Homo sapiens: one gene and its partner. The protein of the gene in region 2 purifies or fractionates together with the protein of the main gene of each other region. This does not show direct contact. Each region holds a gene or a part of one and is shown on either strand. Other genes may lie near its edges.

The links. Proteins that work in one complex are often made in the same cells at the same time.
Region 1: the proteins of SLC17A8 (region 2) and DNAJC13 purify together in Homo sapiens (affinity purification with mass spectrometry; one large-scale study listed by BioGRID and IntAct). This does not show direct contact.

What each region holds. Positions count from the first base shown.
Region 1 is NC_000003.12:132,419,920-132,424,977, reverse strand, and holds part of DNAJC13 (dnaJ homolog subfamily C member 13), read right to left. Parts: exon of another isoform or gene 3,261-5,058; intron 1-3,260.
Region 2 is NC_000012.12:100,415,297-100,420,095, reverse strand, and holds part of SLC17A8 (vesicular glutamate transporter 3), read right to left. Parts: intron 2,068-4,799; coding exon 1,940-2,067; intron 282-1,939; coding exon 1-281. UniProt on the Homo sapiens protein: Multifunctional transporter that transports L-glutamate as well as multiple ions such as chloride, sodium and phosphate.

The DNA.
Region 1 (5,058 bases), on a different chromosome or scaffold from region 2:
ATGTGCTGTGTATGGGGGAAACTGCCATATGAACTTTAACCCTATTTTTAAATTTTAGCTTCATTTTAATATATGACTCAAGTACAGGTAAAAGCATTTTCTTCTAAATGAACAACAAATCAGTATGTGTAATATGTATGATACCAACAGGAATCTTAAAACAAACCATAAATACATCACAAAGATTTTAGTACCTACCATCTTAGCCTTCCTTAACTTACTGAAGAACCCGATACCTCCAGAGATAGATGTCGTTGAAGAATAAAAAAAGCCAGCGGTAATATCAAATTTCATCTGATAATCATATCTTCAAATAATTGCCCAGATATTTTAAAGTGAAGTGATTGTACTGTCACATCATAATCAACTTTTAACTAGTTTCACTACCATAGGGTAGCTGAAATAATATGAGATCTCCACCATTGTTTTTAAAAACTTGATTCCTTTCTATTACAAACTGAGTATATATTAATGAAATACAGGGCAAGAAAAATTCAAAAGCAACCCCTAAATCTGAAGAAACACTTAATGGGAGGAGGGGACAAGCATACTTACCATAGCAGTTACTTTTTTTGACCTCTTCTATTCAACAGTATAAATCAAGTATTGAAAAGAGACCTGTCTCTTCTATTTCTATCACATGTATGCTCATTTCATCTGAGGGGAATAATTTGTATTTCTGACAAAACAGAAGTTTATCTGTTGTTAAAAAAATTCAAATTTTCTGTGAAAGATGTATTACTATGACCCTTCCCTTTCCAAAGCTTAAAAATGCCTTAAAATACTCACCTGAAAGCTTTCTTTCCAGAAACATGTTCACTTAAGCAATGCTTTGAAATCATTGCTATTGATCATTTACATATTTTTAGTTTATACACATTATTGTAACTTTATAGACCTAATTTCTATTTCATTTTATCTTTGAAGCATAACCTGGCTTATGCAAGAACAAACTATACTATTTCTGTAAGGTCTTCAGCTTATCAACTTATTAAGCTTATCAGCTTATTAAGGCACTTAATAATCATGCTCTACTATGGTAAACAGGCCCTGAAATGGGCAAAAGAAATTTTTAGCAGCCATATTTTAACTTGTTGCTGTTTTTCCTATCATTACAGTAAATGCATAATGCGGGACTAAATTTCCTAAGCTTTTAACACATACAACTTGAAGACAGTTTTACAGAAAGCATCCTGAAAACCCAAACACTGTTCTTTTTATACTATTAAAAGACAAAAGTTTAATTTGCTACAATTTCCCCTTCACTCAATACAAAATAGCAAAAACATACATTTCTAGTTTAGTTCTGAAATATCCCTATTATTCCTACCTCTTCTGTGGCGCTTTACAGTTTATAGAACACTACCAAATTATCTTAAAAAAGCAAAGTTTCACTTTTAAAATTAAGCCCATTAGTGCTAAGATTTGGGGGGAAAATGGCTTATCTGCTCTAAGATTTGATAAACATTCAAAATACATTCTGTAGCTTGACTAGAAGTTTGAGGAGAGAAACCCCATAGCCTTAGATGACTAAGGAATACAATAAAAGTGAGAACACCATGTATAAGCGTTTAAATGTATTACAGAATACATGAAATATTAGAGAACATCTCCTCCATTCATAACCTCACCAACCCTTCCATTAAGTTGTGGCAACTAGAGCTGGCAAAAATCAAAGCGTCGAAATAATTTTTTTTAAGAGACAGGGTCTTCCTTTGTCACCCAGACTGAAACGCAGCAACACAATCATAGCTCACTGTAATCTCAGTCTCCTGGGTTCAAGCAATCCTCCTGCCTCAGCCTCCCGAGCACACGTCACCACAGCCAGCTAGTTATTTCATTTTTTGATGAGACGGGGTTGCTCAAGCTAGGTTGGAGCTCCTGGCCTCGAGTGATCCTCCCGCCTCAGCCTTCCAAGTGCTGGGATTACACGTGTGATTATTGTGCACCCAGCTAAAATAATTCTGGATTGCTTTAGGGGTTTTGTTTTCTATCTGATAATCAAAATATCAAACTCTTATTAATCCATTGCAAAGAGATATTACCACTGGGCATGTGCTAAATATGTGACTAGGCAGTGTTCTTCTAAGGGCAACTTGAGTGCTTAAACTGTAAAATTCCACTGACTTTAAAGCTCACTCTTTTTCACAAGTAGTCCATGAAAGTACAAGTAAAACTCCCATATGTCGACTATTGAATAAAGAGCATCTGAAAAGAATTACTAGCAAGCTATATGGTTTTATTGACTGAACCACACCTAAATGTACCTTTGCACAGGTAACTATCTTAAATTAGCAAAGATGATCATAACCATGTTGGTTTAAACTATTTGTTACAAAGAAATCTAACTCAGTTACTCTCAAAGGAGTTCCTATGATTAAGAATCACTCCACATAACAAGAAGTGTTATAAATTGGCATATGCTGGGTATGTGAACACTGCTGAAACAGAAAAAATATGTTGAAAACCACTGATTAAAATTTTGAACTAAAGTAATGGTTGGGCTAGGATGCCATCCCATCTGAGGCACTATGACTGGGAGCACTACTAGCATTTAGTGGATGAGACTAGATATTCAACATACATTACAGTCCCAAAGATAAGTACCATCCACACCATACGACTTTCAAGTGTCCAAGTGAGCCAGGTATGGTGGCTCACACCTGTAATCCCAGCATTCTGAGAGGCTGAGGTGGGAGGATTGCTTGAGCTCAGGAGTTTGAGACTAGCCTGGGCAACATAGTGAGACCTCGTCTCTACTAAAAATAATAATAATAAAAAAAAGTTAGCTGGGCATGGCGTGCCTATGGCTCCAGATACTAAGGAGGCTAAGGTGGGAGGATCGCTTGAGCCCAGGAGATCAGGGCTACAGTGAGCTATGATCGTGTCACTGCATTCCAGCCTGGGCAACAGAGTGAGGTCTGAAAAAAGAAAAAAAAAAAGGAAAAAGAAAAAAGTCCAGAAGTCCAAATGCTTAGTTGGTTAGTCATGTAGGCAAAAACCTATTTATAATGAATGAATCCCAGACTCTAATTGTTTTATATATAACTCACCAAGTACATTTTGCAGGGTTTAATATACAGAGATTTTTCCAGGAATGTGGCTGCAATGTAAATTAAGAGATTATACTTTATTAACCCTGTTCTTTTCTGACAATGCTAATAATCTCAATTGTGGTATTTGAGTCACCAATGTGACAAATCTGTAGACATCAACATTTCTGTCAAAAATCAAAATGGGCCAGGCATGGTGGCTCACACCTGTAATCCCAGCACTTTGGGAGGCCTGGGTGGGTGGATCACTTGAGGTCAGGAGTTCGAGACCAGCCTGGGCAACATGGTGAAACTCTGTCTCCTAAAAATACAGAAAAAAAAAAAAATCAGCCCAGCATGGTGGCAAGCGCCTGTAGTCCCAGCTACTCAGGAGGCTGAGGCAGAGGTTGCAGTGAGCCAAGATCGTGCCACTGCACTCCAGCCTGGGTGACAGAGCAAGATTGTCTCTCACACACACAAAAAAAATCTCAAAATGATTCCATGTAAAGATACAAGCCTCTGACACGTCCTTTGTGTATTTTGGTATAATCATACTTAACTATTTACATATTGAAATGCATATAGTCAATTCTGCTATAATGCTTTCTTGATCATGTGAATTTTAACAGGATTGGTGTATTACTGAACAATTTGAGCATAATGAAAATGTCACATTTGCTTATAGTGATTCTGTCCCAACACTAAGTGAACGCAGAAAATTGTACCCAACTGAGTCATGCAGGAATTCACAAAATACACACACACACTTCAGGTGGTCAATGAACCACATACATTCACATATATGTTACTAATTTTCCACTCCATCTTATAACTTTTTTTCCTTCTACTACTTCACAGTAATTCAGAAACTATAACTCCATCCAATGCTCACTGCATTGTTTGCTCAAACTTTTTCAAGGCAAAATGTCATTATTATAGTATTTAACATGTACAAAACAGTTCTTTTTAAGCTCCTATCTTTTTAAAAAATGTATAATGATGACTGCTCTTTCTCTTGGGAGTTTTTTTCATGGGCCTCATAATTTTTGGTTAAAAGCTGGACATGTTGTGTAGGAGTAGAGATTGAGGTAATTTTTATGACTGGAAATGAGCACGCCTGTTCTTTGTGAGGCCTTTGGTGAAGGGTTTGTGTTAATCTGGTTAGGAGTTGGACTTAGTTTATGATTTGTTTTTGCCATAGTTATCCTCAGTGTATTACAGCCTTCATGAATCTGCAGAACAGTTTGTCTCTCTGGTGGGCGATGGTTTACTAGAGCAATGCCTGTTTGATTCTTTGTGTTGTGCCTCTTTGCATAATCTTGTTCCTTTCCTAGTAGTATTTTGTGGGTTACTTGTTACTGAAAGCTTCTTAGCTTGGTGGCAGGGGGTTGGGGGTGGGGGATACAGTCTGATGTTCTGATTAAGTCTAAGTCAAACACTGTGTTCCTGAATCTCAGGAGGGCAGCACTCTCGGTTCTGTTGACCACTCCCGACTGCAGTTTTGGGCTCAGGGCCCCTCCTCCAGGCATAAGATTCTCTCCCACTTCTCATCTACCCCCTGAATGTTCACCAATGGGGCCAACAGAGATACCCTTCTCCCCAGAGATTAAAGCTTTTTTCCATAGAAGAGGCAGAGGGGAAGAATCACAGCAGTTTCTTGACCCTCTTAAAAGTTCTGTTGCTGTTCCTCTCCCTCTCAATCTGCACAGCAGACTCACCCAGGGTTCTTTCCAGTCTTTTCTAGTAGACCCAGGGAGGTTTGTGGATAAGAGTTTGCAAGATTGTGCATTCAGCTTTCATCATGCTTTTTGTCCAGTTGTGTCTGAAGACGGTAAACAGAAATTGACATCTACTCTCTGTAAGCACTGTCTCTCAAATTTTCAGCCAGTGGTTTTGCTCTGTGGACTCAGCTCTTTAATAGATTTCAAAAAAGTCATGAATTTGTAGTGTAGGTCTTTTTTTGTTGCAGAAGTGAGAGCAAAGCTTCTTTTTTTGTCTCAGGGCCAAAGCCAGAGGTAGTTACATT
Region 2 (4,799 bases):
GTCGCTCCTCTCTGTCCTTTCCATTCCTTCTTCTGGACTTCACAATTCTGGGAGGTGGCTCCATAAGACATCTTCTTTTTGGGACTCGCAAAACTCTCATGGTTGAGTTCTATCTCCTCAGCTAATTCGTCCTGGTCAATGATTCCACATTTCTCCTCAGAGAGATTCTCTGGGTCAGCCCACTCCTGTTTCTCCCCAGAAGCAAAGACCCCATAGAAGATCACACCACTGTAATGCACCAGGGCAGCTATGAGGAACACATTCTGCCATTCTTCACGGGTCTAAATAAGGAAATAAAGTGCCAATTAATGTTTTAACTAAAACTAGAGATTACCAGTATGTCCTGGAGGCCTCCACTGTGAAAAAGCACCTGCCCATTTGGAAGGTGATGCTCTAGAGGCTCCTTGGGCGGGAGGACGTGTGTCAGAAGCACCATCCGGGATTCAAACCAAATTTAAAAGAAAAACTTAAAAAATGAAAGTTAAGACAACAATGAATATGAAAGTTAGACAAAACAATAAATACGTATTTTTTTAATTTAGAAAATTCTTTTTTTTTTTTTTGAGATGGAGTCTCGCTCTGTCACCCAGGCTAGAGTGCAGTGGCGCGATCTCGGCTCACTGCAAGCTCCGCCTCCTGGGTTCACACCATTCTCCTGCCTCAGCCTCTGAGTAGCTGGGACTACAGGTGCCCGCCACCACGCCTGGCTAATTTTTTGTATTTTTAGTAGAGGCGGGGTTTCACTGTGTTAGCCAGGATGGTCTCGATCTCCTGACCTCATGATCCACCCGCCTTGGCCTCCCAAAGTGCTGGGATTACAAGAAAATACATTTTAAAATAAACAACATATACAAATATTAATACCTGCAGCACCATTGCATAGCTTTTTGAATACTCAAATGGGGTTTCCCTTCACATAGTCAGCTAAATTAAAATTGTTTTAGGAACCCACCGTTTTAAATATCAGAAGTCTCCTTCTTGCTTGTTGTTGGATACATAACAATATTTGAGCCATTAAAGTTCTCACCCTTGACTGACAAGAACTTTATAATATTTTCAGTGTAAAAAAAAGTATGTCAAAAAATAATGGGAATTTGTGTCTAAGGTTGGGGGAAGATATCTTGGATTTAATAGTCAGGTTATCAATCCTATCATTTCATGAACAGAGATGGAAAACATGAATTCTCTGCCTATAAAATCCTACCTTTTCTGTCAAAAAGTAAGAAAATTTATCTCACACTTTCTTCTGCAGGAAGCTGCAAAAACTTCTGAAGTTATATTTGTAATAGGCAATCCAACTAAGAAAATAGATGGGGGAAAAAAATCCCATGGTATCAAAGAATTCTTATTTGCAGAAAGCAGCATCTTGAGACGTTTCAGTGACAAAGATAAAGAAATCATGTGGGCTGTGGTTGAACTCTGGATGGATCTGCCTCTACCATCCACCCTTGTCTAAATTCACAAAGGCTCAGTAACAACTGGGTAGGTTATCAATGTCCTGTTTATTTTATTCTTAACAAGGAAGTAGAATAGCACTCATCTTTTTATGCTGAAACATGCTAAGCAATGGATGGAAATAGGCTATAAGGTTTAATCACTGAGAATGAGAAAACAATCTTCAGTAACTCATTTATCCCAAGTTGACTGCCTCAGTTTCTTCTTTGGGTCTCTAAACAGTTTCTATGGCCCATCCCCTCTCCCCAGACTATTATTCCTCAATTGAGAAAACATAGAACAAAACAACAACTAGCCTTGGTGCCATTGATAAGCAATGATTTGAAAATCAGAAGAAGGAAGAAAAAAAAAAGAAGTTCAGCTGACTCAGTCAAGGTCAAGGACATACACATTTACAGACTGCAGTAGAGCCTTGAAATCTCAAGTTTGTGTAGAGCTCCAGTCCTCTGATATTGTAACCCATAGCCACAAAGGAGACCTTTACCTTGTGCCTGGTCATTGCACCGACAATGAGGGGACAGACCATTCCAGAGAGGGTTCCCACTCCGTTTGAGATCCCCATGAGAATGCTGGCATAGCGTGGGGCAATGTCCAGGTGGTTGACATTAAAACCTACAGTGAAGCCAAAACCTCAAAATCAGAGTCAAGAACAGAATTTCAAATATGCTTTGGAAAATACTCAGTTGCCCCAGCCTTTACCAATCTGTTTGGTTTCCTCTAGTATATGACTAGTTTCCAGACCAAGAGGACTGGGTTCAAGAGGCTGTGTCTGCACAAAGCAGCACTGGTAGACAATGCTGGAATTGATTATGGATATCTATCAAGGGCTCTCTCTATAAAGAGAATTATGGCATCTCTACCTTGTAGGTTCTGAATTCCAAAATACGGTGTTTGGCACAATATTGAAAAGCCTAAAGCCTGAATCACATTTATTCAGAGTAAATAATCATACAATCACATACAGTATGACTAGACCAAACCTTGCTTTATAATATTCCCACTCCTACCCCTGACTTACTCTTAAAAGGCAGCCAAGGGTAAGCCTACTTTATTGGCCACATGGCCACATTTTCACACAATGAAAAGGGTGCTTTTTAATGAAACATTTGCACAAACATTGGGAGAACCTTCTGTAATTTATGAAACACTTTCACACACCTACTTGATTTGGAGTCTGTAAATCTGGACTTGAATCTTATTTCTACTATGTAAACAAGTAATTTGGGGGCCTTTGTTTCTTCATCTCCAATATGAGGATAATATTACTATTCACTTCACAGAGGTGCTGTGATAGAGACTCAGGGGAAATAGGTATGTGAAGCCCTTGGCAAATATCAAAGCTATGCTAACTACCACTACTACTACTGCTACCTTCTGCTGCCATTGCAAAGTAACTCCCTCTCTTTGAGGTCTTCTATCAAAAGATAATGCTGCTGGCCGGGCATGGTTGCTCACGCCTATAATCTCAGCACTTTGGGAGGCTGAGGCGGGTGGATCACCTGAGGTCAGAAGTTCAAGACCAGCCTGGCCAACATGGCAAAACCTCACCTCTACTAAAAATACAAAAATTAGCCAGGCATGGTGGCACATGCCTGTAATCCCAGCTACTTGGGAGGCTGAGACAGGAGAATCACTTGAACCCAGGAGTTGGAGGTTACAGCGAGCTGAGATCTGACTTTGTCAATATATTGCAGGGGTGCATGTTCAAATCAGACAGACCTCAGTTCTGGCAGCTTAGTTGAGATGCAAGCCTAGACCAAGGATTTAAACTTCCTGAACCTTAGTTTCATCTACATAACGGGATAACGATTCTTATAAAATTGATGTAGGAATTAAGTTAAATAATGTATGTTAACTACATGGTGCATAGACGTGTAAACCAACATGCATGCTCTTTACAGGTGGTTAGCCATCCGTCTTGTTTACCACCATCTCCCCTGAACTAGCAAAGTGCCTGGCACATTGTAGTCACTCAATAAATAGTTGCTAAATTAATTACCAGCTTCAGCTACTGAAATTATAGCAAGGGGTTGTAGGCTTTATTCATCTTTTTGTCTTCCTTTGCTTTGCTTTTTATTTCTCTATTCTGTGCAAAAAAAAAAACTGAAAATAGGACTTAAAACATTTTTTTGTTCTAATCTGGCACACTGGTTGGTTGTCTTTCCTACTTCCCTTCAGGGAGAAATTTTGAGAAAACTTTTTGGTAATAATAAACATACCTTATCTTTCAGGTCAATGTGCCAAATGATCAGAATATAAAACAGCTGCAAGTTCATTAATCTTACCATGGATTTGAATGTGATAAACACTTTATTAGAAAAGAATCCAGAGATAAGAAGCAATTAATATGATTGTTGAGTATTATGCTCTGATACAAAGCCTGGGCATCTGCATTCAGCTAAAGATAATGTGGGAAAAGCCATTTAGGTTTCTAGCTGCACAATCCTGACATTTGGGGAGGGGGGAAAATCACTGAGAAATTGAGATATTGATAGATTTTTATAGCAGATAAAAAAATTACACATAAACTGAGAGAATCTATCTTCTGTATAGGACATTTCCCAAAACAGGCATCACTCATCTCTTGCCTATTTTTAACTTCATCTATCTCAGCAGTCTTGTCTATAATCAGCTCCTAAATTGTGCCAGTCAGTCTTCCCTGACATCTATGTTTATTCCTTTAAAAGTTGGCAGACAGTAGATTCTGAGGAATTATTGCCCCTGTGGCTGCAATCCCTCCCACAGTGTCATTGCTGGGACCAACAGACCTTTATTCCACACTCCCAGCCACTTCACTCGGCAAGTTAAACCACACTTTGGTTTCCCCACCAATAAAGTGAATATAGCAATACCTTTCTCATCAAGGTTGCAATGAGGATTAAATGAAATCATGTTTAAAAAGTGGCAAGAAGGCCAGGTGTGGTGGCTCATGCCTGTAATCTCAATACTTTGAGAGGCCAAGGCAGGAGAATCACTTGAGGCCAGGAGTTCGAGACCAGCTTGGGCAACATCGTGAGACCCTGTCTCGAAAAAATATATATATATCTGGAAGTGGTGGCACATGCCTGTAGCCCCAGCTACTCAGGAGGCTGAGGCAGGAGAATCAGTTGAGCATGGGAGGTAGAGGCTGCAATGATCCGCGATCATGCCACTGCACACCAGCCTGTGTGTCAGAGCGAGACCCTGTCTATTTTTTTTTTTTTTTTTGAGACAGAATCTCTCTTTGTCACCCAGGCTGGAGTGCAGTGGTGCAATCTTGGCTCACTGCAACCTCAGCCTCCCCAGTAGCTGGGACTACAGGCACATACCACCACAACCAACTAGTTTTTGTATTTTTAGTAGAC